Homo sapiens: one gene and its partner. The protein of the gene in region 2 purifies or fractionates together with the protein of the main gene of each other region. This does not show direct contact. Each region holds a gene or a part of one and is shown on either strand. Other genes may lie near its edges.

Evidence for each region. Proteins that work in one complex are often made in the same cells at the same time.
Region 1: the proteins of DNAJC22 (region 2) and RANBP3 purify together in Homo sapiens (affinity purification with mass spectrometry, with the first as the bait; one large-scale study listed by BioGRID). This does not show direct contact.

What each region holds. Positions count from the first base shown.
Region 1 is NC_000019.10:5,971,584-5,975,241, forward strand, and holds part of RANBP3 (ran-binding protein 3), read right to left. Parts: intron 2,849-3,658; exon of another isoform or gene 2,767-2,848; intron 1-2,766. UniProt on the Homo sapiens protein: Acts as a cofactor for XPO1/CRM1-mediated nuclear export, perhaps as export complex scaffolding protein. Bound to XPO1/CRM1, stabilizes the XPO1/CRM1-cargo interaction. In the absence of Ran-bound GTP prevents binding of XPO1/CRM1 to the nuclear pore complex.
Region 2 is NC_000012.12:49,349,867-49,352,175, forward strand, and holds part of DNAJC22 (dnaJ homolog subfamily C member 22), read left to right. Parts: intron 1-1,295; coding exon of another isoform or gene 1,296-1,334; intron 1,335-1,450; coding exon 1,451-1,636; 3' UTR 1,637-2,309.

The sequences.
Region 1 (3,658 bases), on a different chromosome or scaffold from region 2:
TCTTTGTGTTGTTATGAAATAGTTTTGAACTTGCAGTCCCCTTGAAAAGGTCTTGGGGACTGCAGGGCCCCGGACCATCTTTGAGAACTGCTGCCATATGCTATCTGAGTTCTAGCATTCCAAGGACACTAAATCCTAAATTACAGACCATGAGGTGCTTTATGCTAAGGTTCTAGCTAAAGAGCACTCTAAGTGTAGAGAATGCAGAGTCTAGGAGTCTGTATAATAGGATTGAAACCCAAATACCAACCAAGGTCACAGGCACTGGAAGAGAAGGAAGTGGGCTAGGCCCCAAGTAACATGGCGGAGACCACAATATCCAATCTAATCTATCCACAGGCGCAGCTGTTCCTTAGCACTGAAAAATCACTGCTGTGCAAGAATGCAGGCCAAGGGTGGTTGCTGTTTTCTGAGAGAAATCAGAAATACAATTTTTTTCCCCTCTGAAATCTCAGAATTTTAAGTGTTGGCTCCTAATTACAAACAAAAACCTAAATGGGCCAAATTAAATATGTCTGCTTGCCCTTCAGGCAAGTTTGCAACTTCTGCCTGTGGTTTTCAACTCTGGCTTCATGTTGTTAAACATCTGTGGAGCTCTTTAAAACCACAGACACCCTAGAACTCCTGGAACCATCTCCAATGGTGCAGCCCAGGCAGCAGTTTTGATTTTCCCTGACAACCTCCTTAAACAAGTGTGAAGCCCATCCAGGGCTGAGATCCATAGCTAGTGCTGTGTGGCAGCTCTAAGTGCCAAGACTACTGAGGAGGAAGCAAACTGTGGACATGTGGAAGGTGGTGGTGAGGAGCTTTACCCTGATGTCCCAGGCCACGTTATTCTCTACTGCGTAGGGCAGAGTCAAACAGAACACCGCTCCACCAGGACCCCCTAAAACAAAGAAAACATCACCACCAGACCCTGAATAGATAATGATGCAAGCCCAACTGCCTCACGATTGCTTCAAAGTACCATGGAGAGCTACCAAATGCCCAGCCAAGCCAATACCAGCCATCTCGGCAGTTTTGTGGTCCTCTGGTAAGTTTTGAGGAACGGCGCTCTCTTCTCAGATTCCCCAAATGCATCTCAACTTTCCCCAAATGGCCTTCGTCTCCCACTACACCCAGGCCTATTCACTGTCTGAACTCACGTAGGAGGGCAGAATTCAACCCCCCTTCTCCACCCCAAGCTCCTCCAAATGCCACTCGAAGCTCACCCCATTCCTGCTGCTTCTGCTCACTCTGACCACCTCAGAGGAGGAGCACACACCAGACCCAGGTTGACCCTAACACCTAATGAATGCACGAGGGTGCCGGGAAAATCCCATTTTCTGGTAAACGGAGAGGCAGGCTGAAGGCTTGTTTGAAACATTTTGCAGAAGCCCAGTGAGGGCTTTTCTGTCTATACGCAGGATCCTGGGCAAAATGGAAAGTCTCTTCAAAGAGTATAAAGATTTTGCAGCCTGGATACCCCTTGGGTACCATCAGGCCCCTTCTGCTACAGATACAGGAGGCACAGTGGAGGTGAAAGCACACATTCTGCTCTAAGCAAAAATCCCAGAATTAGTTTTTATAATAAATTCACGAGAAACTTTCCAAAAGTTGTTTAAGATAGGTTCCAACTATTTCAGTTCTAGCTAACCAATAAAAATTCAGTTGCATCTCACCCTCTCAGGGGCTAGGTTTTAAGTCAACAAGGTGCAAGCTGAGAGAAGCCAAACCACCCTCAAAAATCTCTCGACTCATACCTGGTCAGGCTTTTAAATCAGTAGTTCTCAACTGAAAGCAACTCTGCCCCCGGGGGGACACTGGGACGGAGACATTTCCACTGTCATGACTGGCGGGGATGAGGAGGGGGATGTGCTATTAGCATTTAGTGGGGTAGAGGCCAGGGATCCTCATTAAGATCCTACAGTGCACAGCGCAATCGCCCACAACAGAGAATTACCTGGCCCCAGATGTCTGTAGTGCTCAGGCTGGGATCCCTGAGATCACTAAGTGACAGGCAGGACAGAACTTAGGAGGACCCAGAGCCCAGGCCCTGCTGGTCTTCTGCCAGGGGCTCAGCCCAGGGCCAACTCTGAGTGGGGCAGGTTCACCCACACAATGGAGACTTTGCTGAACCCTTCAGCTGAATGTGTCCAGAGCAGAGTGCACTGTAGTAAAAACAGTGACCTGAGTGTTTATTACTATGAGCAGAGACTGGTGCTAAACAATGTATGTGCACTCATTCCTTCAATGCTCACAGCAACCACGAGGTGGGTGTGGTTACCATTATTCCCATTTTATTGGTGTGGAAACGGGGGGCTCAAAGAGGTTAAGAAATTTGCCCCAAATGACTCAGAGTGGACAGCGGAGTTAAAACACAAACCCAGCTCTCTGAGGACCAAAGCCTGTGTCCCCACCATCGATACCAGTGAGTCTCTCACCTGGGGGCGATTCTGCAGCCTCCCCACCCCCACTCCCCAGGGGCTGTGTCAGGAGACTTCTTCTGTTGTCATGACGACCCCGCGAGTGAGGGGAGGTGTGTGCTACTGGCATCTAGTGAGTAGGTCCAAGGATGCTACCGTGCTGCTAAGGATCCTGCAACGCACAGGACAGCCCCTCCCGCCAAAGAGAGCCATCAAAACGTCAACTGCACCACACAAAGGTGAGAGCCCTGCTTCACACTGTCTCCCGGGTTTCCACCACGCATGTCCACAGGCCAACAGGGCCTTTCATGTCAGGATCTAGAATCCAAGATTCCCTGGAGTTCAAATGTGCTTTGCTCACCCTCTTTCCAGTCTTCTTTACCTTTGCCAGGGACAAAACTCTGCCTTCAAATCCTGATGTCAGCCTACAATGCAGCATAACCCTAGAGACAGGATGAGTAATGAGTCTGGGAGGTATCAATGGGGAAATGCCAAGCAGGGGAGACTTATCCCTGGATGCAAGGGTGAAACATGCACACACACTGTCTGAGAGGAAAAGCACTCAGGTGGACTTTAAAAGTCCCAGACCACAGGAAGGGCTGTGAGAGTTGCTGTCACCATCCATGAGGCGTTCACCATGGTGACGAGGGCCAACAAGATGCTTTACACAACAGAAAACATTTCCTCGTATACAAGCAGAGGACACCTACCCTCTACTACTCAAACCAGCGGGTCTCAACCCTGCCTGCACATGAGAATCACCTGTGCTGCCACCTGTACAGAGGCCCAGAACCCACCCAACACCAGAGAGAATCGGAATCTGCAGGGCGTGGCGACTGAGCATCTGCGGTTTCAGGAAAGTTCCCCAGGGGGTACTGATGCCCAGCCGGGTGGACAGCCGCTGCTCAGCCTGACACAGAGGTGGGACTGGCCCAGAGAAGAGAGATGGCAAATGGATGGAGGAGGGACTGGGTGTGAGGGTGGAGCAACTTATGATCTCAGTCTGGAAAGGCAGAAGCCAAGAGGGCATTTGACTAGAGCTTAAACAGCAAGAACAAACACGTGACCATGGGGCAGCCCCTAAAGCTTCAAAAGGCACAGGCAAGGAGGCCCCACTTTACACAGTGAATAACAAATTAAACATCCTGGCAGGCTGTACAAGCCAAAACCAGAAATGGAGTGTTCAAGAAACACACAATGACTGATTGAAGGACGGCAGGGATATATGAGGCACAAAGTCCACCAAGATTTGA
Region 2 (2,309 bases):
AAAAATATATGTGTATATTATTTACTTTTTATTGAGGTACAACATATATAAATTGCACTAATTTTATGTATACCTGACTCAGATCAAGGGATGGAACATTTCCAGCACTAAGAAGTTTCTTTTATTCCCCTTCTCAGCCTATACTCCCACCTTCAGAGGTCATTTCTATTCAGACTTTCGTCACCATACATTAGTTTTGCTCATTCTTCTTCTTCTTTTTTTTTTTTTGAGATGGAGTCTCGCTGTGTTGCCCAGGCTGGAGTGCAGTGGCACAATCTCAGCTCACTGCAACCTCTGCCTCCTGGGTTGAAGCGATTCTCCTGCCTCAGCCTCCCGAGTAGCTGGGACTACAGACGTGTGCCACCACGCCCGGCTAATTTTTGTATTTTTCATAGAGACAGGGTTTCGCCATGTTGGCCAGGCTGGTTTCCAACTCCTGACCTCAGGTGATCCACCCACCTTTGCCTCCCAAAGTGCTGGGATTACAGGCGTGAGCCACCGTGCCCAGCCAGGTTTGCTCATTCTTGAGCTCCAAATAAGTGGAACCATCCCGTATGTGTTCTTTTGTATTTGGCATCTTTCATCTTTCATTCAACATCATGTTTATGAGATGTATTCCTCTTGATTCTTTTTTTTTTTTTTTTTTTTTGAGATGGAGTTTCACTCTTGTTGCCTAGGCTGGAGTGCAATGGCGCGATCTCAGCTCACTGCAACCTCTGCCTCCCAGGTTCAAGTGATTCTCCTGCCTCAGCCTCCCGAGTAGCTGGGATTACAGGCATGCGTCACCACGCCAAATTAATTTTGTATTTTTAGTAGAGACGGGGTTTCTCCATGTTGGTCAGGCTGGTCTCGAACTCCCGACCTCAGGTGCTCCACCCGCCTCGGCCTCCCAAAGTGCTAGAATTACAAGCAGGAGCCACCACGCCCGACCATTATTCCTCCTGTTACTTGCAATTGTAAATTGTTTGTTTTCACTGTTGTGTAGTATCCCATTGTATGATTATACCACAGTTAATTTATTCACTCTATTGTTAATGAACATTTGGGTTGTTTATGGTTTGGGGCTATTATAAATAAAGCTGCTATGAGCTTTCTTGTACATGTCTTTGGTGGACATATATACATTTATGTCTTTTGTGGGGAAGAGATCTTGCCAGGGATATGAAGTTCCAGGTTGGAAAATGGGCAGTTGTGGTTAATGGCTCTTGCCATGAGATCTAGAGCTTGTCTATGTTTCAAAAGGCTGGAATTCTTTTTTCTAAAATAATTTTTTTCTTTTATTATTACTCTATAAGGCTGGAATTCTAACCTGAGCTGCTGGACCTTTCCCACGGGCAAGTAGAAGCCAATTCTAGAGATATGATAGCCTGATTTAGCAAAGGTGCAAGGAGAGGCCCAGGTACCCTGACAACTTGGGGGATTCTAATTTGTCATCTTCTGTTTCCATAAGGTTTTGGGCCTCTCAGAAGGGGCAACAAATGAAGAAATACATCGGAGTTACCAGGAGCTAGTGAAGGTCTGGCACCCAGACCACAACCTGGACCAGACAGAGGAGGCACAGAGGCACTTCCTGGAGATCCAGGCTGCGTATGAAGTCCTGAGTCAACCCAGGAAGCCCTGGGGATCCCGGAGGTGAAAAGAAACTTCCCCCTGAGGACTGACTCTTCCTAGCAGAGCTGGGCAACTTGTCCCAAATCTAGCTTTGCCCACGAATGGCATCCCAACAGAGTTAAAGAAACTGCTTGCAGGGGCTGGGCGTGGTGGCTCATGCCTGTAATCCCAGCACTTTGGGAGGCCGAGGCGGGCAGATCACGAGGTCAGGAGTTCGAGACCAGCAGCCTGGCCAATATAGTGAAACTTCGTCTCTACTAAAAATACAAAAAATTAGCCAGGAGTGGTGGCAGGCACCTGTAGTCCCAGCTACTTGGGAGGCTGAGGCAGGAGAATCACCTGAACCTGAGAGGCGGAGGTTGCAGTGAGCCGAGATCACGCCACTGCACTCCAGCCTGGGCAACAAGAGTGAAACTCCGTCTCAAAAAAAAAAAAAAGAAAGAAAAACTGCTTGCAGGGGACATGAGAAAACAATGGGGTGAGAAAAGGTTGTGGTAGAAGGATGTGTTTATATTCTGAATTTCTGAATTCTTGGCTATTGCATTCTTGACAATTTTTCTTAAAACCAGAGAGTGAAAGGCATATTATAAAACAATCAAATATCTTTTAGAGTATGGACAACTATTATATATCAATAAAAAATTAATTAGAAAAAATATATCTTTTAGAGAACACACCACCTTATCCCACCCATGATA